7 linked regions of the Homo sapiens genome follow. The protein of the gene in region 7 purifies or fractionates together with the protein of the main gene of each other region. This does not show direct contact. Each region holds a gene or a part of one and is shown on either strand. Other genes may lie near its edges.

What was found.
Region 1: the proteins of AKR1C2 (region 7) and CNN2 fractionate together in Homo sapiens (co-fractionation; one large-scale study listed by BioGRID). This does not show direct contact.
Region 2: the proteins of AKR1C2 (region 7) and FAHD2A fractionate together in Homo sapiens (co-fractionation; one large-scale study listed by BioGRID). This does not show direct contact.
Region 3: the proteins of AKR1C2 (region 7) and PGM2 fractionate together in Homo sapiens (co-fractionation; one large-scale study listed by BioGRID). This does not show direct contact.
Region 4: the proteins of AKR1C2 (region 7) and ACO2 fractionate together in Homo sapiens (co-fractionation; one large-scale study listed by BioGRID). This does not show direct contact.
Region 5: the proteins of AKR1C2 (region 7) and THOC5 purify together in Homo sapiens (co-immunoprecipitation; one large-scale study listed by IntAct). This does not show direct contact.
Region 6: the proteins of AKR1C2 (region 7) and THOC1 purify together in Homo sapiens (co-immunoprecipitation; one large-scale study listed by IntAct). This does not show direct contact.

Annotation. Positions count from the first base shown.
Region 1 is NC_000019.10:1,029,608-1,033,107, reverse strand, and holds part of CNN2 (calponin-2), read right to left. Parts: intron 2,038-3,500; coding exon 1,916-2,037; intron 717-1,915; coding exon 650-716; intron 550-649; coding exon 412-549; intron 1-411. UniProt on the Homo sapiens protein: Thin filament-associated protein that is implicated in the regulation and modulation of smooth muscle contraction. It is capable of binding to actin, calmodulin and tropomyosin. The interaction of calponin with actin inhibits the actomyosin Mg-ATPase activity.
Region 2 is NC_000002.12:95,405,708-95,409,207, forward strand, and holds part of FAHD2A (oxaloacetate tautomerase FAHD2A, mitochondrial), read left to right. Parts: coding exon 1-96; intron 97-1,233; coding exon 1,234-1,450; intron 1,451-3,500. UniProt on the Homo sapiens protein: Tautomerase that converts enol-oxaloacetate, a strong inhibitor of succinate dehydrogenase, to the physiological keto form of oxaloacetate. It is thereby required to maximize aerobic respiration efficiency by preventing succinate dehydrogenase inhibition.
Region 3 is NC_000004.12:37,843,686-37,847,185, reverse strand, and holds part of PGM2 (phosphopentomutase), read right to left. Parts: intron 2,823-3,500; coding exon 2,633-2,822; intron 1,554-2,632; coding exon 1,456-1,553; intron 256-1,455; coding exon 75-255; intron 1-74. UniProt on the Homo sapiens protein: Catalyzes the conversion of the nucleoside breakdown products ribose-1-phosphate and deoxyribose-1-phosphate to the corresponding 5-phosphopentoses.
Region 4 is NC_000022.11:41,524,617-41,528,116, reverse strand, and holds part of ACO2 (aconitate hydratase, mitochondrial precursor), read right to left. Parts: intron 3,272-3,500; coding exon 3,149-3,271; intron 2,925-3,148; coding exon 2,769-2,924; intron 2,319-2,768; exon of another isoform or gene 1,856-2,318; coding exon 1,664-1,855; exon of another isoform or gene 830-1,663; coding exon 697-829; exon of another isoform or gene 217-696; coding exon 95-216; exon of another isoform or gene 1-94. UniProt on the Homo sapiens protein: Catalyzes the isomerization of citrate to isocitrate via cis-aconitate.
Region 5 is NC_000022.11:29,515,758-29,519,257, forward strand, and holds part of THOC5 (THO complex subunit 5), read right to left. Parts: intron 3,364-3,500; coding exon 3,249-3,363; intron 1,610-3,248; coding exon 1,506-1,609; intron 1,360-1,505; coding exon 1,272-1,359; intron 1-1,271. UniProt on the Homo sapiens protein: Component of the THO subcomplex of the TREX complex which is thought to couple mRNA transcription, processing and nuclear export, and which specifically associates with spliced mRNA and not with unspliced pre-mRNA.
Region 6 is NC_000018.10:223,048-226,547, forward strand, and holds part of THOC1 (THO complex subunit 1), read right to left. Parts: intron 2,357-3,500; coding exon 2,290-2,356; intron 2,093-2,289; coding exon 2,042-2,092; intron 1,948-2,041; coding exon 1,877-1,947; intron 1,154-1,876; coding exon of another isoform or gene 1,133-1,153; coding exon 1,037-1,132; intron 459-1,036; coding exon 393-458; intron 1-392. UniProt on the Homo sapiens protein: Component of the THO subcomplex of the TREX complex which is thought to couple mRNA transcription, processing and nuclear export, and which specifically associates with spliced mRNA and not with unspliced pre-mRNA.
Region 7 is NC_000010.11:4,987,275-4,990,566, reverse strand, and holds the end of AKR1C2 (aldo-keto reductase family 1 member C2), read left to right. Parts: intron 1-528; coding exon 529-571; 3' UTR 572-2,792; downstream 2,793-3,292. UniProt on the Homo sapiens protein: Cytosolic aldo-keto reductase that catalyzes the NADH and NADPH-dependent reduction of ketosteroids to hydroxysteroids.

The sequences.
Region 1 (3,500 bases), on a different chromosome or scaffold from region 7:
CACGGATGCTCAGAAATATTTGTAAACGAGGCCGGGCACAGGGGCTCATGCCTGTAATCCCAGCACTTGGGGAGGCCGAGGCGGGCGGATCACCTGAAGTCAAGAGTTCAAGACCAGCCTGGCCAGCATGGTGAAACCCAGTCTCCACTAAAAATACAAAAATTAGCCAGGCGTGGTGGCAGGTGCCTGTAATCCCAGCTACTCGGGAGACTGAGGCAGAAGAATCGCTTGAACCTGGGAGTTGGAGGTTGCAGTGAGCTGAGATCACGCCATTGCACTCCAGCCTGAGTGACAGAGTGAGACTCCGACTCAAAAATAAACAAACAGAAATTTGCAAACGAGTGAATGCAGCAGCTACATCCACCTCGCTGTGTGACTCTGGGCAGGTGGCTGCCCCTCTCTGGGCCTCACCTTCCCCGCCAGGGCGAGAAGAGACACCTGCACCTGCGTCATGTTCCCACTCTCAAACAGGTCGTTGGCCTCGAACAGGTCCACAGGGTTCATGCCGTAGCTGACCATGGCCTTGATGAAGTTGGACAGGTTTTCTAGCTGGGAAGAGGCAGGAGAGGGACAGTGAGTGGGCCTCAGTCTCCCCACCTGTTAGATGGGCCCCCAGCACCATCCCTGCTCCGCTCCACCAGCCCCTCACCTGGTGCCAGTTCTGCATGGAGCGGTTGATCTTGGGGACGGAGCCCGGCTGTAGCTTGTTCATGAGTCTGGAGGGCACAACATGGGGCGGGGGAAACAGAAACCTCTGTGAGCAGCGAGGAACCGTGAAGACCCGATGCTGATCTCAGCCAAGCTCACGCCTTCCTGGGCAAACTCACGGCCTCTCTCTGGGCCTCAGTTTCCACTCTTTTTTTTTTTTTTTTTGAGACGGCGTCTAGCTCTGTCACCCAGACTAGAGTGCAATGGCACTATCTAGACTCACTGCCACCTCCACCTCCCGGGTTCAAGTGATTCTCCTGCCTCAGCCCTGAGCCTCCCGAGTAGCTGGGATTACAGGTGCCTGCCACCACACCCGGCTAATTTTTGCATTTTTAGTAGAGATGGAGTTTCACCATGTTGTCCAGGCTGGTCTCGATCTCCTGACCTCGTGATCCGTCCACCTCAACCTCCCAAAGTGCTGGGATTACAAGCGTGAGCCACCATCCCAGGCCTCAAGTTTCCACTCTTATAAAGTAATCTTTGGCTGGGTTTGGTGGCTCAGGCCTGTAAGCCCAGCACTTTGGAAGGCCGAGGCAGGCAGATCACGTGACGTCAAGGGCTCAAGACCAGCCTGGCCAACATGGAGCAACCCCATCTCTACTAAATATACAAAAAAAATTAGCCGGGCATGGTGGCAGTCGCCTGTAATCCCAGCTACTCGGGAGGCTGAGGCAGGGGAATCACTTGAACCCAGGAGGTGGAGGTTGCAGTGAGCCGAGATCATGCCACTGCACTCCAGCTTGGGCAACAGAGTGAGACTCCACCTCAAAAAAAAAAAATTATTTATTTAGCCACCACGCCCAGCTAACTTTTTTTTTTTTTTTTTTTTTTTTTTGAGATGGAGTCTCGCTGTGTCACCCCGGCTGGAGTGCAATGGTGTGATCTCGGCTCACTGCAACCTCCGCCTCCCGGGTTCAAGCAATTCTCCTTCCTCAGCCTCCTGAGTAGCTGGGATTACAGGTGCCTGGCTAATTTTTTTGTATTATTAGTACAGACGGGGTTTCACCATGTTGGCCAGGCTGGTCTCGAACTCCTGACCTCGAGATCCACCGCCCCCCGCCACCACCCTCGGCCTCCAAAAGTGCTGGGATTACAGGCATGAGCCAGGCCATGCCCGGCCCCCCAAAAATTTCTTAATTAAGAAAAAAAGTGAGAAAAACCAAGATTTGTTAAGTGTGAGACAGCCTGTGTCCCTGCGTGTACTCACGTGCATAAGATAGTTCCATCCTTCAGGCCCTTCTGGAAGTCGGGGCCGATGGAGAGGCCGGTGAGTCCCTCGATCCAGGTGCGGAGCTCTGCCTCCTTCTGGGGGTCATATTTGGACAGGAGCTGGTGGAGCAAAGGGCACGAGACTGAGCTGGGCTGGGGGCACCCCCAGCAGGAACCCCACAGAAGCTCTGCAGAGGGTGGGGCCGGGGACTCCAGGGCAACAGCAGATAGAGCGGCCTGGAGGTCCCCCCTCACCACACCCACGCAGATGCTCCCTTTTCCCATCATTGGGGGCGCCCCAGCCACTGCAGGCGGGCACAGATAAACCGCCCTCCAAGCAGGCCGACAACCGGCTTAGAACTCACTGATAAACATCAGCTCTAATCCACTCCCGGTGCAGGACAAACCTGGCCGGATCTGCCTCCCCGCCCTGCCTTCTCACCTCCCCGCTATATCACACCTGACGTTTACCACTTCAACCACCTGAAACCGCACCATTTCACAGCATTTCGTACGTCTGCAATGTTGTGCAACCATCAGCTCTTTTTTCTTTTTTATTTTTTTTGAGACAGAGTCTCACTCTGTCGCCCAGGCTGGAGTGCAGTGGTGCGATCTCGGCTCACTGCAAGCTCCGCCTCCCCGGTTCAGGCCATTCTCCTGCCTCAGCCTCCCGAGTAGCTGGGACTGCAGGCGCCCGCCACCAGGCCCAGCTCATTTTTTGTATTTTTAATAGAGACGGGGTTTCACCGTGTTAGCCAAGATGGTCTCCATCTCCTGACCTCGTGATCTGCCCGTCTCAGCCCTCCAAAGTGCTGGGATTACAGGTGTGAGCCACCGCGCCCGGCCCCCATCCTGCTTCTTAGCAACTCCCGAAGGAGCTGCCCCCGAGGCTGACCGCCTCTAGTCACGCACCTGGCTCCTTGCCACCGATTCCCTGCCACCTTTCTGCACCCGGCCATTCCAGCTTTCTTGGCCTTCGGTGCTCTGAGACACCGCCGTGGGGAATGGGCTGTGTGCTCCTGGGCAGTGGGTGTGCACCAGTGGGGACCTCGAGTGTCCCTATCCAGCCACTAGTGACCGCGGAGACAGCACTGAGGCAGACGGCAAAGTGTATAGGGGGCCATAAGCATGGGGGCAGGTCGTGTAGCGGGAGCGGGAGATAAACGCTGGAGGGAGAATAAAGTAGGGTTTGGGCTGGGTGCGGTGGCTCACACCTACAATCCCAGCACTTTGGGAGGCCAAGGCGGGCGGATCATCTGAGGTCAGGAGTTCGAGACTGGCCTAGCCCACATGGTGAAATCCCGTCTGTACTAAAATACAAAAATGAGCTGGGCGTGGTGGTGGGCACCTGTAGTCCCAGCTACTTGGGAGGCTGAGGCAGGAGAATCGCTTGAACCCAGGAGGCAGAGGAGGCAGTGAGCCAAGATCGGGCCACTTCACTCCAGCCTGGAACAGAGTGAGCCTCTGTCTTAAAAAAAAAAAGAAAGAAAAGAGAGAAGGAAAAAAAAAATCAAATCCCTCTCCCTGCTCTGCACCCATCTCCCCAGGTTCCCGCGGACAGCTCCCCACTCAGCCTCCGCTTC
Region 2 (3,500 bases), on a different chromosome or scaffold from region 7:
AGGGGTTATCAACCTCAATGCCTTTGACCCCACACTCCCGAAGACGATGACGCAGTTCCTAGAGCAGGGAGAGGCCACCCTCTCAGTGGCAAGAAGGTAAGTAAGTGGGCAGCATCGCCCTGAAGCAGCTGCCCTGGTCCCCCTGCACCCTCCCCGCTCTGGGAAACAGCACCAGCAGGTAGCTCTTTTGCAAGGGAGCAGAGTAACCCCACCTTTCCTTTTCTCCCGTTCTCTTAAAAGATCCTTAGAAATCTTACATAATAACATCTTCAGTTTTCAGAGGAGAAAACTGAGAGCTAGGGGAGGTGATTAACAATTTGAAGGCCATACATGTGGTGCTGGAACCAGGACTCTATACTTCATCACACTGCCTCCTCTGGGAATGAAGTCCTGGACTGACTGACGGGTCTGGGCCCGGGGGTCCTAAAAGGCATCTTATGCAGCTGGGGGAGTGATATAGACTCCCAGCTCCTACAAGGAGAGAGGACTGCAAGGAGGTTTTCTATAAGACACTTGGTTCCTGGGTTTGGACTAGATTAGGTGAGAGTGTCCCTGAAGCCTGGACCCCTATAGAATCTGGTCTAAGGAGCTGATGAACAATAAATTAAAAATACTTTAAGATGTCATTTTCATCTATTAAAATGGAAAAAAATACAAATGTTTCACAGCTCACAGTATTAACAGTATGTTCCCATATTGCCATATTCTGCAAAGACTGGAAATCTCCATGCCCCTCATTAGGGACTTGGGTATATCTCTATAGAGCAGTAATATGCAGCCACAAGAAATAAAGAGGACACTCTCTATGTATTGTTACATATTGTTAAGCAGAGATCTCCAAAATCAGTTGTTTTTTTAAAAGATGTAAATAGTATGCTATCATTTGCATACAAAAGGGTGGGAGAAGAATATCCATAGAGTAGCTGCGAAGAGCCAGGGGAACGGGGTAACCGGAAGGGGAAAGGGAAACCTTTCCATGTATTCCAGTTTGTATCTTTTACATGGACATGAGTTACCTAAGGGGGAGAGGAAATCAACACTGGATAAATAAAAGCCCTGCTCTGATAGCAAAGGACAATAGTCAGTGATTTTCACACTGACTCTGATGGTTGATAGAGCTAGGAAATAGATTTCAAAAAGCAAAACCTGTAGCTGCTGCAGGATCTGCCCAGCCTGCCCGGGATTGCCCACCTGTTCCCAGCCAGACCCTCTCACCTGCTCTGGTCTCTACAGAGCCCTGGCTGCCCAGTTGCCAGTCCTACCACGGTCGGAGGTAACCTTCCTGGCTCCAGTCACACGACCAGATAAGGTGGTGTGTGTGGGCATGAATTATGTGGACCACTGCAAAGAACAGAACGTGCCCGTGCCCAAGGAGCCCATCATCTTCAGCAAGTTTGCCAGCTCCATCGTGGGGCCCTATGATGAGGTGGTCCTCCCACCACAGAGCCAGGTCAGTGTCTCCCCACTGCCCTCCCTAGTCACTGGGCCCATCACAAGGGCATTCTGAGCTCAGTATTGAGCCTACTGGAGCCACCTCTCGCTCAATAGCGCATTCAGCAGAAACTCTACAGGATTGTACACACAGTAGTAACACTGGCCTTGGAAAAAAAAAGTTAATGTACGTGTTTTCCTGGTTACAAAAGCAATGCACCTTCACTGTAGATAATAAAATAGAGATAAACATTAAAAAATTATGTCACCCATAATCCCACTGCCCATGGCTCGGAATATTAATGTTTTTCTGTCTACCTTCCCAGTGTTTCTCCGCTCCTGTATATGTTTATACTGTACATATACTTACCTTTTACTTAAGACTCCATCAGGAGCATTTTTTCATGCCATTAAGTATTCGCCCTGACACCACGGAGTTTGTTATGTAGATTAGTTTATTCCTGAGTACCTTACTGCTGGATACTGTTTCTAGTTTTTGGCTTCTATAAATAAATGTTGCAGTAAACATCCTTATGTGGAAAAGGCTTTGCATGTCCATTAATACATTATTATTTCCTTTGAATAAACCCTTTGGAATTTAAATATGTCAGCGTATAGGCAGTATTTCAAAATTTTTGAAAAATTCTGCCAATTGGCCTTTTAAAAAATTGTAAAAGCAACTTACACATCCACCAGTAGTGTATATACCCTTTCTAACACTGGTTACTTTTTCTCTCAGATTTTTATTTTAGAAATGTCTTGAAAATTATAGAAAAGCTGGGAAAATAATACAGTGAACACTCAGATAACTTTTCCACCTGGTTTCATTGTAAACATTTGGCCATATATCCTTTTTCTCCCTTGTCTTCTCCCTGCCCTCCACATGGCAAACACACATTTTTTTTTTTTTTTTTTTTTTTTGCAGGGTATGGGGTGGAGGGGACCTTTTAAAACACATTGGAAATATTAAGACAATTTAGTCATAAAAACGTAAATAGGCATCTTCTAAGAATAAGGACAATGGCTTGCATGACCATCCCACCATTATCACAACCAAAAAAATTAACTTGAATAATATTTAATATGAAATCCAATTGCCCCAATTCCCAATCGGAAGTACTGCTGACTTCCCCAAAGATAACTTCTAATTTGGTTACTTCGTTTGTTGCTCCATGATCAACCAAGGCCACACACTGTATTCAGTTATATCTCTTTAGTGGTTTCAATCTAGGACAGGGTTCCATAGACTTTTTCTTAAAGGGCTGTATTAGTCTGTTTTCATGCTGCTGATAAAGACATATCCGAGACTGAGCAATTTACAAAAAAAAGAGGTTTAATTGGACTTACAGTTCCACGTGGCTAGGGAAGCCTCACAATCATGGCAGAAGGCAAGGAGGAGCAAGTCACATCTTAGGTGGATAGCAGCAGGCAGAAAAGAGCTTGTGCAGAGAAACTCCCATTTTTAAAACTATCAGATCTCATGAGACCCATTCACTATCATGAGAACAGCACGGGAAAGACCTGCCCCCATGATTCAGTCATCTCCCACCGGGTCCGTCCCATAGCACGTTAGAATTATGGGAGCTACAAGTTGAGATTTGGGTGGGGACACAGAGCTAAACCATATCAAGGGCCAATTAGTAAATATTAGGCTTTGCGTGTCATATGTTCTGTTTTGCAACAATTCAACTCTGCTGTTATAGTGTGAAAACCACGATACAGAAATGAATGATGGGTTTCCAATCAAAGTTGATTATAGCAGATGTTGAGCTGGCCATAGTTTGCCAACTCCTGCTCTCAAACAATACCCCCTGCCCTTTCCTTGAAGAATCCAGTTGTCTCATAGCATGTTTCACATTCTGGGTTTGTCTGGTTGTTTCTTCATGATTAGTGTCAGGGTAAGCATTTTTATCAAGAGATCTACAAAGCAGATGTTATACATTTTCCATCGTATCCCACTGGGAGGCTCATGTCAGTGGTCCCAGAATTTGACCACTTGGTTTAGCTGACATTCACTAGGTCCCTCCATTGTGAAGATGCATTTCTATTTTTGTAATAAGCAATCCATG
Region 3 (3,500 bases), on a different chromosome or scaffold from region 7:
AAAGAGAAAGACATGCCTTAGATCTTCTACAGAGCAGATGAAAGGAAAATGAGTGAGTCCCAGAAACACCCTACCTCAAAATGAAAACCTTCCTTTAAGGCAATGGCCCGCAAGATTTTGGAGGAGACGGTGCTGGACAACATGTACGTGTCTTTGAGAGCACTGCGATCCTGGTTCTTCTCTTTCCAAGATGTAAAAAGCCACCAGCCCAGGAGGGCCCCCAACTCATTGCCTGAAAACACCCTCCATTCACCACTGAAAGAAAAAAAAAACAACAACCACCATTCATTTCCATAATCTTAAGGAAGACTCTAAAGTGTCATGGGGATAAAACAATTTAGCAAACAAAGCATCTAAGTATTTTCTGCAAGGCTGTTCTTGTTATTCATCATCTTTAAATAACTGGTCAGAAATGTAACTGCCATTTTACAAACATCTGAGCAGCTACCATATATATCAGCCAGTTTGCCTGAACAGACATCCTGTCTTTGAAGACTGTATAAAATAAGTATGTCACACATGACACACAATGGCTCTATATTAATCTTTGGCAAAGCCTTTGGTTTTAAATATAACAAATATGCTGGCAAGATCCCCCATATATAGAGTAAGTTTTGCTATCTCAATTTCTGGACTGGTCAGTATTGCTGATTCTGAGAGGGGACAGCTCAGTACCCCTTAAGATCAAGCTCAGTCCTAAATGGTCAGAACATCAGAGAAAAGATGTGTAATTTCTGCTTCTCTTGGCAGTCCAGATGGCTAGAAGTAAATCTCACCTATCAGGACGTATCATCTTAGCTTAACTTTCTCAACACTGATATAGAATGGAACCTGTTTTATCACAATCTGAAAACCCTACCATTTCAGCAGCAGCACCCTCCTGCCCCCAAAACATCACATAGGCTACCTGACGCCCAAAATTGCTTGGGCCCTGCCTACCTTTCAACTTTAGCCCCACGTACTTACTTCTCCTTTGTACAAACTCTCTGGTCAGACTTGTCTTAAACACTGTGCCGATACCCCACAGGAATTCCTCCCTGGTCTGTCCAAACTAAATTCAGCATCTCCTTGAAGGTACTGCTCCCTCCTAAACCCCTCAGCAAATACTGAAGCATACAGCTAGCACCAAAGTGCTTTACCCTCATTAGACACTGAGACATTACTTATAAAAAGATCAATTACAAAATGAGAAGTTCCCAAATAGGAGTTTCAATTTGAAATATATACTGGGTTGATTTACTCTGCATTATGCTTGCCAATCACGTAACCTCCCCCCACACTAGATCTCTATCTTGCTCTCCATTAGAAGACTCTACAGGAGGTTCAGTGAAATGATCATTTGCAAAATAAATGGGAAATGTTTCCAAATAGGTCCCGTCTCCCCAGAAACATTTTACCAATGAAGAGATCATCCTTTATATGTTCTATAATATAGGTAATCACAATTAATTTTACCTGTCTTGCTTTTCTGCCACAGCAAGTCTATCAGCATCCGGGTCGTTAGCTAAAACAATTCTGGCCTTGGTTTTGTCAGCCAAAGCAAAAGACAAAGTCTGAAGAAGAATATGAAAATAAAAGATTATTTAATCAAGAATCGAGCATATGATAGTCTTTAAAAACATTCAGTTCCTTAAGAACTCAAGAGGTCTTTCCCCTCTTAGAAAGATAATATAGGACCAACCAAGACAGCTCCAGAAGTGAAATTTAGCAAACAAAAGCTGCAGCTGGTCTTGGTTGGTCACATAGTATCTTCCTAAGTCAGAGGTCAGATAATGGGAGCATCGGTGTGTGACCCAAGCCTACCAGTGTGCCTGCTGCACATGCGCCAGTAGGTCTGTGGTTGGACTGGTATTTCGGGGCATTGCTGTGTGATCAGCCTCACAAATAAAACAAAATAAACTGATTCTCTGAATGCCACTGCTACCCCAACCTTTAAAAATGTTACAGAAACCATAATGTAAGCAACACTTCATATCAGAAAAATGACAAGAAATAAAAATCATAACCTGCTAAAGTTTCACTCTATTACTGCTTCTTTTTGGCATTAAGGAGACACGGCAAATTAAATTAAATTAAATTAACTGAATTTGAAGCACCATTTAGAGCTCAGTTCTCATATCCTGATCCTGGGGTGTTTAATTTGAAAGATCCTTTAAGAAATTAATGACTAACAAATATACATACTTCTTGTTTTTTTTTTTTTTTTTTTTGAGACAAAGTCTCGCTCTGTCACCCTGTCACCCAGGCTGGAGTGCAGTGGTGCAATCTCAGCTCACTGCAACCTCCATCTCTCAGGTTCAAACAATTCTAGCGCCTCAGCCTCCCAAGTGGCTGGGATTACAGGCATGTACCACCACACCCAGCTAATTTTTGTATTTTTAGTAGAGACAGGGTTTTGCCATGTTGGCCAGGCTGTTCTCGAACACCTGACCTCAAGTGATCTGCCTGCCTTGGTCTCCCAAAGTGCTGGGATTACAGACATGAGACGCTGCACCCAGCCAAACATACATATTTCCATGCTGAAATTAGTTTTTCTTCAGCACAATGAAAACACATAAAAATGTATTTTACTTGACAGTAATAGTTTTGAATATAAAAGCAGATTTCATAATTTAAAAAAAAATTAGGTTACCAAGACACCTTTCCCCTCTTCGGGATTCGGGTATTTCACTGTTGGAAACTCAGGATCCGGATCTTTCTGTTCAGGAACAGCCTCAGGAGGAACAAGGTCAAAAGCCTTGAAAGCTGACTGCACAAAGCTATGACCCACCCCATGGACAGAGGTGTGCACAAACTTCACCTTTGTCTCCCTGTTCACGCTCCTAGAATCAGATACACAGTGGAAAATGATACAAGGCAGAAACAGGGCTCTCAAAACTGCAAGGTTTGCAAGAATGCACAAGACAACTGAACATCTTTCTAATTCCATTTCAGAAAAACAAAACGTATCCATTCTCTCCCAGATATATATATTCCTTCCCTCAACATACTCAAGTTTTAAATTCTACTCTGTAGTTATTTTCAGCAAATCTGATTATTTCAGGTTTTGTTTTATGCATCCCATCTAGAGTGAGATACAAAGAAGAACCTCAAGCTCATGTTCCCACACGAGACTCACTGCTGGCCTGACAGGTGCCCTGACAGTGCTACAGCCAGCCCGGGACAGTTCCAGGGCTCCACACACCCACACATCCCCAAAGCGACAGGTTCCCAAATGTCTTTTATCAGCTTCAGAAATGATTTTCAAAATGTCCTTTTTAACAAAATGTGTTGGGTTATCCCATACATAAAGATATAAAAAATAAAACTTTTACTTTGGGAGGCCGAGGCAGGTGGATCGTGTGAGGTCAGGAGTTCAAAACCAGCCTGACCAACACAGAGAAACCCCATCTCTACTAAAAATACAAAATTAGCTGGGCATGGTGGTGCATGCCTGTAATCCCAGATACTTGGGAGGCTGAGGCAAGAGAATCGCTTGAACCTGGGAGGTGGAGGTTGCA
Region 4 (3,500 bases), on a different chromosome or scaffold from region 7:
CCTCCTGGGAGAAGCTACCCTGGGGCCAGTGCAGGAGGGGAAACAAGGTGGCTGCCCCTCACCCCACCACCTCAGGGGGACCCGGGCCCCTAACCTTGCCAGGGGTGAAGTCCTTCAGGCCCTGAATGGTCAGCTTGTCCACAGGGTGAATCTTGTTGTAGTCAGCCGGGTCAGCGAAGGTCAGAGGCAGCAGGCCCTGTTTCTTCAGGTTGGTCTCTGGAAAGCAGGCGGCATTCGGTCATCGGGGGCCTGACTAGCCTGGAGAGCTTCATTTTCTGAACCCATCTGGGGCTCTGGGAGATGCCCCTAATCCTGCTGCCTGGGACAATGCCCGGGCAGTGACTATGGGGCCCTGGTCTGCTCCCTTTCACTAGGGGTGCCCCTAGCAAGTGTGCGCTGGTGCTGAGGTCTGCGAGGCCTTCCTGCTGCACATTCATGATCAGAAAGAACCCCCTGGCACATGTCCTAGATCTCAGCGGCTCAGATCTACAAGCCTGGAAGCAGGGCCTGCGGGAAGCCGGGAAGCTGAGCGTCGGATGTGCACTGTGTGAGCCTAAGAAGGGGCAAGAGGCTGACGGGCCTGTGGGCTGCAGTGGACACAGCCTAGAACCAGGCCCAACTCAGCCACGGGCAGGGAGAGTGACCTTGATCACTAGGGATGGGATGAGGATGGCCTGGGTACAGACTCCAGCTCACCGTGGATCCTGGCAAAGCTCTTGGTGATGATGGCCCGGCCCCCAAGGTGGCGAGGCTCCAGAGCTGCATGCTCCCGGCTCGAGCCCTCGCCGTAGTTCTCGTCTCCGATCACCACCCACCTGATGCCATGTTTCTGTCAGGCAAGCGGGGGTAAGGTTATAAGGCAGAGGAGGGCACCGTCCTCACCTGTCTGGCCCTACCTGCCTGGCCTCACCCACCTGGCGCCTGGGCATCCTGAGGCTCCCGGTAAAGGGGCTGGAGGGGCCCTTCCTCGCCTGCTGCCTAAGGGCAAGTGAAGCCTGCGTGAATGAGACCCAAACGAGGCCCCGAGGGGACAGAGGCACGTGGTTGTTTGCAGTGGCAAAGAAGACAGAAGCCACCCATTGGTGCTTGGCAGAGGCAGGTGTGTGTGGAGGGAGGTTGGGTGAGACAGGGACGGCCTCCGGGCCCCACACAAGATGCATCTGTGAAGCTCAAGGCGCCCCCTTCCTGGGAGCACCCTCTGCCCCACCCAGCCACCAGGGGGTGCCAGAGTCCTTTCACCCGGCTGGGCCAGGACTTGGGTTCAGCCCTGGTTCTGTTTGTTTCTCAAAGCAGAAAAAGTCCAATCACCTCAGACCCTCTCTGCCTGCTCACTGTGAGGCCCCGTGTAGCCCCCTCTCTGAGCTTTTGGCCTCTGACTTCCTGAGTCGGCCCCCTTCCTTGTCTTTGTCTAGGGCCAGATATCCTAAGATATCTCTCACTAACTCCTCCTGGTGCAGGGACCCGGCTGTACCACCGGACCTGGGCCTCATGCCTTCTCAGCCACAGGGAGGGGCTGCAGGCCTCTCCTCCCTTCCACAGCAGTCCCCTTTGGGCTTGGTCGGCCTCCTTCCCAGTTTCCACTCCCCTAATGTCCTCCCTGCACCTGCCTTGCAGGCCCCTTCAGGAGTGACCACTGGCATTGCCCCTATCAACTCTGACCCACCTTGTAGTAGCGGGCAGTGTCAGGGACGGGGCCAAACTCCTGAGTGACGGCATTGCGCACGGAGTTGGCCTTGCCGTTTTCAATGTTGATGGCACCAATGAGCAGGTTGTTGGAGATGTTATCCAAGTGCCCACGGAACTTGAGCCAGGGGCCAGCAGCTGAGATGTGGTCAGTGGTACACTTCCCTTTGACCTTGGGTGGTAAGTAGAGAGGACAGAGGTCAGGGCATGGCCCTGGAGGGGTGGATGACAAGCCCTCCAGAGGCAGGCAGCAGGCCCCGGGGCCCAGGAGGGGTGACAGAGGGGTGAGAGGCAGGCAAGTCTTCAGACACGTGTTCTGTGGTCCTGGTGCTTCCACCCTAAGGCCACATGGGCTCAGGCCAGGCCTTCATCCCCTCAAAGGCCTCTGGCTGCTCAGTCTCCCTTATGGGGCAGAGGCCGCCCAAAGTTGGGACAGGTCAATGTTCGCTCACCCTTCAGGCCTCAGCTGCAAGATCAGCCACAGACCTCATGCTGGACACAGGAGCCCAGGACATGCCTGGGTCCTGGCTGATGACTGATTAGTCTCTTCTGTCACAGGGGTGCCTGGAGACCCCTTAATAAGCAGCATAAATAAATATCTGACACAGATTGGAGGCCTCTGGCCACACCAAAAAGGCTTGTTTTTGGTCGGTGCCAAACACAAGCCATCCCATATCCACGGGTGCCCAACTGTGGGGGCAGGAGTTGTCCATGGCTTCCAGAGCCTGTGTGGACGTGCCAGGTGTGGAGCCTGCTGTGCAATCACACACACTGTCCCAGCCCAGCCTGAGCTGTACTCACCTGCCCACACCCACTGGAGGTGGCTCTGATCAGCTGCTGCTGGATGGCTGAGGGCCCCAGACGGAGGCTGGCCAGATCTAGCTCTGCCCAGTTCGGGGCCACAGAGAAGGGGGACGCTGGACTGCGTTGCGATACCCTCTCTGCTCTGCAGCCAAACCTCCCTTCCATCTCCCACCTGCGTCTTGACTGTGCTCACTTCCTCCAGGTTCATGGCCCTTCCCGATGCTCAGGGGACGGGGGGCCCTGGCAGGGTGGGGCTGTCCTGCCGTCCCCATGCTGCTGACCTTGATGAGGATCTGCAGGTCCTCCAGGTCCTTGCCATCCCACTTGTCAAAAGGCTCCAGGAGCTGCAGGCGCTGGCTGGTGGGGCTCACGTCCACATGCTGCCCGCTGCTGTCCTTGGGTGGGTGCTGGTAGGTGTCCTGCCCTGGGTCAAACTCCTGCAGCAGGGAATGGGGATGCGTGGGGTGCTGAGTCCTCAGTTCCCACAAGGACAGACTCTCAGAAGGCAAGTTTCCTCGGGCCCCACCTCCCCTCCCAGGGAACAGAGCTGCTTCCTTCTCACTAGCAGCGCCCTCCCTGCCTGCACAGGAGGTGCTGTGAGGTTGAGAAGGAAGTGACGTGGCCACACAGCAACCAGCAAGCAGGGGGCGTGGGCGCTCACCCCTTTGGGAAGCTCATCTGCATCCGGAGCCTCCAGCCTGAACTTCTTGCCATCCGTGCCCGTCAGGTAGTCGGTCTCTGGGTTGAACTTGAGGGTTCCCGCAATGGCCAGGGCTGTGACAATCTGAAATGGAGGTGGCCAGTTTGTTGGTCAGCACCAATTGCCACTCCTGTCTCCTGCACCTACCAAAAGCCTAGGCCAAAACTGAGAAAGGAACCCAGGAAATTTCCATGTTCTTCCCAGACCCCTGTGTTCCTCAGAGGCCAGAGCTGCAGGACGATCTTTGGGACCACGGGGCCTTGGGCCTGCAGAGGACTCAGGAAGCCAAGGGCAGTGCGGCCTCTCCCATCCC
Region 5 (3,500 bases), on a different chromosome or scaffold from region 7:
GCAGTTGAGGCTGCAGTGAGCCATGACTGAGCCACTGTACTCCAGTCTAGGCAACAGAGCAAGACCCTGTCTCAAAAAATAAGTTAAATTAAATTTTGAAAGGGGAGAGGCCAGGCATGATGGCTGATGCCTACAATCCCAGCACTTTGGAAGAAAGGCCAGGAGTTTGAGACCAGGCTTGGCAACATAGTAAGAACATGCCTCTACAAAAAAACAAAAACAAAAACAAAAAATCTTAGCTGAGCATGGTAGCATACCTGTAGTCGCAGCTACTCAGGGAGCTAAGGTGGAAGAAGGATTGCTTGAGTCCAGGAGTTCAAGATTGCAGTGAGCTATGATCGTGCCACTGCACTCCAGCCTGGGCGACAAAGCAAGACCTTATCTCTACTGAAAAAAAAAAAAAAAAGGGTGTAGCGGGGAAAGGATGGAAAGCAAATGCATAAAATCCAAATAGTGGTCACTTATTAGGAGAAAGGGAATAAAGTGGGATAGGGAGGCCTCAACTGTATCTGAAATATTCAGTTTCTTCAGAATTTTTTTTTTAAAAGACATGAAGAATAGAAAGAGAAGAAAGTGGGGTAGTGAGGACAGAAACTCTGATACCAAAGAGTTCAGCCTTTCCTTACAGTTCTGGAACTGTCTTAGAACTACAGACAACTTCCTCAGCTCAGCACCAAGTCTTGAGGGTGTCAGATCCCACGGGCAGTGCCAGGCTTGCTGCGGCTTGGGTGGGACAACAGCACAACGGCCCAAACACAACATCCCAGGACTTCAGCAGGGAGCCCTGGCAGAGTCAGATGCCAGAAGAGGTATGAAGAATCAGAGCTTTCAATGCCTCTAAAGTGAGTGCAGGGACTGCAGAAGAGGGAGCGAGGCCCTGTGGCCCTGCCCTTTACAACCTGAGGGTGACACCTCAGCCCTGTTATGAAGAGGGAGAAGGAGGAGATGTCCGGTACTAGAAAGCGGTGAAGGAAGGAGCAAAGAGCTCAGGCTCAGCGCTCAGACTGGGCTTGCAACTAAGCCTGAATTTCCTCCCATGTAAAATAGAAATGAAAGCACCACCCCTAGGACTGCAGTGAGGGTTCAGTGATACACAGCGTGTGTGTGACTGTGTTGCAGAATGAGTCCTTGCTGAACAGGCTCTCACGATCATTATTATCTGTTAAGTCCTTGCAGGACTCCAGGATCTTCTGCTTTGGGCAGCCCCGGAGAGTGTTTGATTCTTGGCAGCGCCCTTTGTCTAGAACCCCTGTAATCAGCAGAGCAATTACCTGTGCCCCTTTCGATGAGCGCCATGTAGTAGAGATTGGTGTCCCCAGCCAGTCCCGCATCCACAATGTCTTTGGTGAAGTGCAGCTCCTAGAAGAGGTACCACAGACAAGAGGTGAACTGCTGGCTCCTCTGGTTAAACCCCCTGCTCTTCCAGTGAGGTGGCAGGAGCTGAAAGGTGACATGGTCCTGCAATCCTCAGGACAGTAAGGGTAACTTGTCACTCCTTCACCTACCATGTAATCCTCATGGGCAACTGTCACCCATTTCACCAGGCGAGAGACAACCTTGGCAGGGAAGAGGTACTGGCAATCACTGGTAACTGGCACAATGCCATGTTCTAAAAGAGAACAAGACAGATGACGTCACAGGTAGAAATCAGGTGCCACAGATGGGTAACTAGCATCCTCCTGGGGCTCTCTGAAGGGCTCAGATGGCCCGGCCAGCTATCCTGGTATACCTGGTACTCAGGAAGTACCCAGGTCAACACGTGCCAGGAATGCAAGCATGTCAACCTGACCTTCACCCAGTGCTATGTGCTTGTGGCCAGATCCAGTGCCAGCACTTATGGTGCTTTCTCTTTAATGCAAATGATAGCCTGCCAAAGAAAAACCCTTACAGTCAGAACTAGGGAGGGTGCCCCTGCAGCAGTGACTGTTAATTAGATCAAATAGCATAGAGGCCTGTGTTTTCATAGCTGACCTTGATGGAGGAAACAACTGAAGTGTTGTGTGTCAGGGAGAAGAGCCAGATAACTGCTCCAGGGTAAATTCCTGCTGGCATTTAAATAAGCAAATATGCCAACACAGTAAGTACTGTCCAGAATGACAAGTTCCCTACCTTGGGACAAAACAAACTCAGCAGTGCTGATGGGGAGCACGGCCCGATGGACAAACATCAGTGCTCTGGAGAGATCGGCAGCCATGTGGAGTCTAAGAACTGGTGGGGAGTGGTCTCCAGATGTGTCCTGGAAACCCAATGCCTTTCCTGACAGAGACTCTTTTTTATTTTTTACTTTTTATTTTGAGATGGAGTCTCGCTTTGTTGCCCAGGCTGGAATACAGTGATGCGATCTCAGCTCACTGCAACTTCCGCCTCTCAGGTTCAAGCAATTCTCCTGCTTCAGCCTCCTGAGTAGCTGGGAATACAAGTGCACACCACCATGCCCAGCTAATTTTTGTATTTTTAGTAGAGACGGAGTTTCACCATGTTGGCAGGCTGGTCTTGAACTCCTGACCTCAAGTGATCTGTCTGCCTTGGCCTCCCAAAGTGCTGTGATTACAGGCAAGAGCCACTGCGCCTGTCCCAGAGACTCTTTTAGGTCAGAAAAATCTTGACCCCATCCCCCTGCCACATGGTAAGCATTTGACAACCACTTACTGAGTGAATAAACTAAAAGAAGCCCCCAAATGCCACCACCTAAGTCAGTGGCTCATCATTATCACTTGGGAGCTTAGAAGAAAACATAGGCTCAGCCTCACCCTGGGGAACACGAGGTCAGTAGGCCTTGGGGAAGGGATATGCGAGTTGCTCCCTGGATAGCTATATTCAAAAAGCTGACTGTGAGCCACAGAGCCAGGGGCAGGGGTTCACTGTGCTCAGTTCTTCCCCCAGCACTATGCTCAGTGCCTGGCATGAATCAGGATCTCACTAAATATGTGTCGAATGCACATCAAAATCTGCAATGCATGACCTAGGATGAACTGCCCCGACCAGTCCACAAACTTGTGCCACCCAATGGCTCTGGGCCTCCTCTGTGAGGCAGGACAGCACTGATGGCTCTAAGGGGGAGCTCGGTCCTCTGCCTGGACAGGCCTGGAGCTCTCCCCAGTGGCTCTGCCAAGATGCCCACTCCGTAAAGCCAGGAATCCAGGTCTTGTATTTGTCATCAGGATTCAAGTTTTGAGTGAAAGGCTAAGTTGTTGTTGTCCGTGTGTTGTCTGAGTGACTCTTAAACCACTGCCCCATCATCAGCTTACCTAGGGATGCAAACTGTTTGTGGAGGGCCAGGCGGGACTGCACCCTGGTCTTCAGAAGTTTCATGGTGGTCTCCATGTGGCTGGCGCTCAGCGAGTGGTCAGCAATCACTGTTTGCTGTGAGTGACAATGAGACACATACACGTGTGCTCCCCCATCCCTTCCTCCGGGCACCATCTCTCTCCTGGGACCTGCCTGTCTGCGGCACCCTGGATTATCCATGCCCCAAGATGGGTACCCTTTAGACATGGCAA
Region 6 (3,500 bases), on a different chromosome or scaffold from region 7:
TTAATTCTTACTTTACCTATGTCTAGACTGCTATTAAACTTGCCCATTTTGCAAGTTCAACGAACTTTTGTGACTATTAAAACCCAAGTTCCCTGGTTCTCAAAGCTGGCAATCATTAGTACTGCTGCCCTAGAACCGTATCAGTTCATAGGCTTACTCTTCTGTTTGTAGTTTTGATTCCTTTTGTGAATCTTTATTTTTTTGTGATTTCTAAAATTATTTTATCAGCACTTTGAGGAGTTTTATGGTGGGAAGTTACACGCTGCTGTGCCAAAAGTCAACCACAATAAACTTTTAAATTTCATTTGAGCTCTGATCATAGCTGAGAAAAGGCTCCATTCTACTCAACACTTGACAAAAGCAACACTTCATTTGAAAAATGTTCAACTTGCCTTGTCTCTGATTTACAGGCTTCCATATTATCAGGGCAAAGATTCCAAAGCCTTGTTAACTCCTCACTACAAAATAGACACAGAAATAAATACATTTTTTATGGACACCATCCTCATGTGCCTTGAAACTGAACAGAAAAACAATACAATGTAAACAGTGGATTTGGGGATGTTGACAGTATGAGTTTTACTTTTCTCAATAATTTTTGGTATTTAAAATACCTAAAATTATTCTCTATATGAGCATATAATCATTAATCATGACTAATGATAATGATATAATCTTTAGTTTTTTCTAAAAATATTCCAGCACAATATAAAGCAATGAATAGTTAACTGGAAGGTAAGAGAACTCAAGGATTATGGTACCTTGCAACAACTGGAATCTAAACAATTCTACTGTCTGAAACGGAAAAAATGGCACAGCCTAGAGACACAGATTTTGGAAGCTGGAGACAAAATGAAGGTTTATCTGGTGCATGAACCCACACAATGGGCAGTATAGACAGTGCGGTTTGCTTTGGCTATCTATGTGTGTACCAAACACAATCTCATACTATATTTTGGATGGAGAGTTCTTAAAGTAACATCTTCAAAATATAAAAATAACTAAGAACATCCCACATGAAGACAAATTCACCTACTTTCCCATCAGAATTTTTTTGGTGGGTCCTTTCCCTAGGAAGTCCTCGGGTGCTGTTCTCTTCCGAATTATTCTCGTAGGTTTGGTATCTGATGTTCTGTCGTGAACAAAACATACACTATTTTTTGAATTACAAATGGATAACAGAAATAGAAGAATGTTTAACGTAAAAGAAAATTTAGTTATTGTTTTCCTCTTAAAAAAGATGAAAACTGGCTGGGCATGGTGGCTCATGCCTGTAATCCCAGCACTTTGGGAGGCTGAGGTAGGTGGATCACCTGAGGTCAGGAGTTTGAGACCAGCCTGGCCAACATGGTGAAAGCCTGTCTCTACTAAAAATACAAAAATTAGCCAGGCATGGTGGTAGGCGCCTGTAATCCCAGCAACTCAGGAGGCTGAGGCATGAGAATCGCTTGAACCCAAGAGGCGGAGGCTGCGGTGAGCCAAGATCATGCCACTGCACTCCAGCCTGGGTGACAGAGTGAGACTCCCTCTCAAAAAAAAAAAAAAAATGAAAACTTCATATTATGATAGAACAATTATCAGATATAAGATAAAAATGCCACATTATATGGCAAATTACACGGAGTAGATATACAGTATTCTTCTCAATAATAAGATGTTTGTTCCAGGAATTTAATGACAAGAAATTTATGAGGTTTAAAAAATACAGAGGTAAATCAAAGTGGTTGTACTCTTACAAAGTTCAACTTACATTTTTTATGTGAAATATATACATGTATTTTTACATGCTATAATCATATCGGAGCACATTTTCAAAAGCCTTTCTCGTCGTTCTTGTGATGAGTATGTATTTACCTTTCTTTCAGTATGTATTTACCTTTCTTTCACAAAACTTGGGCAACCTTCATTTTTCCACGAGTTCCAGTTTTCTTCAGTGTTTAATATATGCTGGGAAAAACAAAGCGATTACATTTTGGTTAGTGGAATCCTCTGAAGTTCTATTTCGTGCTAAGAAGAGGATGTAAGCATAAAAAACACATACCTCTACCATCTTTGAAAATCTTTCTCCATCGGGGGGGTTTTCAGATAGTAGCTGTGATTAGAAAGAATATACTAAGCTTTCAACAACTTTCTGCATCATAGGAGTGGTTTGTAGGCAGAGAACCAAGGAGTGTTTGTGGTCTTGTACCTGAGCTTAACTTTATCCTTATTTTCCTATTTGGGGCTGAAACAAAGAAAATCCTAAATTTCCATTTTTTCAATCATGGGTTTGTTGCGTGTTGAACTTACTTGATAAACTGATTTTGTAGTATCTTCAATCCAAAGTGATTGCTCATCAGTTAAAACATAGTTTGAACTAGGGAACAAAGCAATGAAAGCATGCTTGAGTTACAGCAATGCATATGCAACTTTAAGGTTTAAAAAACACAAGGCATGTAACATGTAACTATACTGTGGATAGTGTCAAAAATTACCAAGACAAGAATAATCACAAATGAGAGGATTATAAGAGAAAATTCTTGCACTTCTTCCTCAAGAGGGTTGGTACTGAAGACATAAAAGCATATGCAGGGAATAAAACATTCAATTAATCAATCAGATTCACTATGAACAGAGCAATATATGTTTCCTAAAATAAGCTGAGTGTGAAACGAAAACTTCTGATTTGATATTAAGATATGTGTATACATGATGCACATTCAGTATGGCATGCTACATTAAGATTCATTCAAAATACAACGAATAAAACACCCAAACCCTAGAAAAGGCAACAGGCAAACCCAAATTGTTAATAGCTGCCACTAACTGAGCTCTCATAATGCACTAGGTGATTTAAAGACATCCAATAAATATTGATGGCTAGGATCTGAACACTTTACATACATTATTCATTGAATTCTCGGAACAAGTACATGTACATATTAAACAGAGACTACCGTGTCTCACTGATTTGCCCAAGGCCATAAAGATTTAATTCAAACCCACGTCTCACTTCAAAGTCCCTCATCTTCCTACTATGCTATACCAAACCTCCAAAATAGATAGAAGGATAAGAAATAACATTTTTTGAGTGTTTACCATGTGCTACTACCTTAAAATTACAAGTCTGAAAGAGCTGCACTGCAGCCAGCAAATGACGAGCCTGGGATTCAAACCCAGCAGGTAGTGAAGTCATTATACAACTAATACGGCATTGCTCAGTGTCCTTAACACAAATACCGTTAAGTAACAGTGGGCTCCACCTTCAGTTATGGACAGGATAGGAGGAAATGGATGGAAGTATTTAGATAGACAGTAGAGAGCCTAATGAGGTTTTGTGAAACCCCAAATAAATGAACTCCTTTTTGCTTAAAAATTTTCTTTGCATCTTTTAGCTTGAATGTCCTGCAGAGCTCCACACCTTGTGAGATATGTATTACTGGCTTAGTCTGCAAATCAGCTTTGGAGGAGGTCTGAGGGAGGTGAGAAGGGAATGACGGAATTTTGGAGCAGAGACCTCC
Region 7 (3,292 bases):
AAACAATAATTTACGTTTCTAATCTAACCAAGTGTGTTGCGTATGATAGGCAGGTAGTAAGTAATATGTAAAGTAATAAAATAAAGTACAATTACTACCAGTATAATTATCACACTCAAAATTGTTTATTAGTGATGAGCATATATCTTCCTTATTCCTCTTCAATGTAAGGCAGAAGGAGTTCCTGTTTTTAGTGAGAATTTGAAATAGAAAAGGTCAGAATATCTCTTTGTTGACAGATGTGGGATCTGTTGTTGAGAGATGTAGAGAAACATGTTTGAACATTTCACTTTGTGTGTTTTATGTGTTAAGTTCCAGGCAGGGGAATAGAATTAAATTATTCTTTATTTTGAAAATACAGATATGATAAAGTCACGTTCATTAAACAAAGAAACACAGATTCTAGAGCAGTCAGAAAATGAACTTCTTAACATCTACACTAGCGGCAGCTTCCTAGAAATCACTGCGCTACGGGCTAGTAACGGAGTCATTGCCATTCAGAGTGTGCATTTTTTTTTCTCTTTCCAGTTTTGCTGGCCCCCCTAATTATCCATTTTCTGATGAATATTAACATGGAGGGCATTGCATGAGGTCTGCCAGAAGGCCCTGCGTGTGGATGGTGACACAGAGGATGGCTCTATGCTGGTGACTGGACACATCGCCTCTGGTTAAATCTCTCCTGCTTGGCGACTTCAGTAAGCTACAGCTAAGCCCATCGGCCGGAAAAGAAAGACAATAATTTTGTTTTTCATTTTGAAAAAATTAAATGCTCTCTCCTAAAGATTCTTCACCTACTTTGGTCTCCATAACTTCTATGTTTTCTCTCCTTCTGACACACTAGTGCCCCCAAATTGTGATTTGCCTATACGTTTAGGGCCGGGGTTGGAAGATGTTAACAACCATTTAAGATTCATTTCTGCAGTGGGAGTGGGTGGAGTTTCACCCTCTGGGAAAGGGGCAGGTGACAGGTATTTATCAGTCAGTGCCTCTCTAGCTCTTGTAGGAAGAAGCACACGCAGGATGGAGTCTAGAGGATGAGCGATATTGACTAGCAATTCATGGGCTCCCTCCAGCAGTGCGAGGGTCAGAGTTTCTGGAGCCTTGGGAGGAGGCATCCCTGTGAGGGGGGGTTAGGGAGATGGGAGGGCACCAGGAAAAGTGATTAGAAGTCAGGTATGGGAAGGCTAAATAGGACAGAGTCGAGTACATCTCTGCTTGGAAAAACATATCAACACCCTTTTTTTTGATCATTATATCTTGTTCATAAAAGAAAACTTTCCACATTGTTTTAACAAACCCCACAGCTGAGAGTCAGGCCTGAATCTTTGATGTGTGCCCATTCACAACGTTGACCCTATTGGTTTGTGGTGGGGCAGGACATCGAAGATATCATTGACTCATCACATTCCCCTGAATAGCTCATATTTAGAAAATATTCTTAGATTGTAAAAATGTACTGTTCATTTGTTATATGCAATCTTTTAAATGTTTTATACTTTAAACAAGGCATAGTTACAAGTATAAAACATAAATATCCCAAAGCCATTATGCATGGCACTCAAGATTAAAATGGGAAATAATACATCTAATAAATCAAATGTTCCAAGACTTCAAATGTCTTTTGGAAACAGGCTATGTAAAACAGCACACTGGTTTCAAACTTTGGTAAATTTTAAGAAGAACTCTTACAAAGGCATTTAATTCTTATACATAATTTTCAGGGGAACTAATCAAATCAGCTAATCATGAAGACATGATTTTCGTTTTAGAAAACACTTTTGAAAACTTGGGATAATCTCATGTCTTAATGATCAAAGCATTATGAGAAGGACAGTGGTTTTTTACCTGGGCACACTTTCTAACACATTTACTCTCCACTATTCGTACTCTGGTAGCCATGTTAACCCCATCAGAGATTCCTTCTCAAGCCATGTCTCAGAGCTGATAGGCATCCCAGCAAGTTTTGCAGCTCACAATTTTTCTGTAAATTACTTATTCTATAAAATTGGAAGAGGCCATAAACTTTGGAGGGCCCTAGACCAATTTTTTGGATTATTTCTGGTCTACTCTCATTCCGTTGATGATCTTAGATATTCTCTGCATTAAATATCACCTCTAGGCTGAGAAATCCACCAAAAAATATTTCTAGCTCAGCGTTTTCCTCCAAATCTTCAATGGAAGATCATAATGTGAACTCTGCATCTCCATGTTAAAGTTTAATGGACATTCACACTTAGCATGTCTCAAAGAAATCTCATGTAAACCATGGCCATCCTGTTCTACCTTAACTTTCTGAGTCTATGGAATGATAATTTCACATCTCATAAACTTGACTGATGTAAGTGTCAAGAAAAGATTGACATTTTGTTAAAACTTCGTAGCCAAGTGTGTAACGCTTAAGCAGACTTTCATATTTCAAATCTCTATAGCACGTGTAACTCTTTTTTCAAGATGTGAAATAATCATTAGGTCAGTCATTTGTAAATAGTACGGCTGCTGTGGGCTTTTTCCAGTTCTTCACCATCCATTTTTATAAAACTCTTATTGTTAAAAAAAAAAAGTTACTCAGAATTTCATAAAGCCAAACACCTGATTTCAGGAACACTTGAGATGTAAGAAAATTTTATAGGGACCTCCAATCACTAATTTTCCTATTTTTTCTCTCAAAGAAATGCTGAAGGGAGGAATTCAGGTTGAATGAAAGGAAATAGTAACTTACAGCCATATAGAGTTATAAAGACTTCTTGTAAATGTGAACATATGGTAAAATATAAAAACATGTATTTTTGAAATTTTGGATTCTACTCATTATTTTACTTCAATTTAAGATATAAATGTATAGAAATAAGTATAATTCTAAGCTAATACGTATGCAATGTAGGAAGCTGTAATTACTGACCAAAACTATGTGAAGTGGAGAAAACCTGGGGAAGTGGATGGTTTTAGATGAAACTGAAGTTAAATTCATATTGATTTAAAGTAAATTGTCATAACTTTATAAAGTTTTTCATCATCACCACAGCAATCACAAAGAGAATAATTATGAATATACGCAAGAGGAAATGAGAAGGGAATCCAAATGTCATTAAAAAAAAATCACGCCACCTCACAAAATGGTAACAGTGGATATAAAGGATAGAAAGCTATAAACCTGGTAGGAAAACATTGAAAATGGCACAAGTGACTCCTTCCCTGTCACCAATGACAGTCATGTGTTGCATAATGCCTGGGCTATCTTCTGAGAATGGCTTTGTTAGGCAACTGTGTCATGGTGGGGACATGATAGCATTAG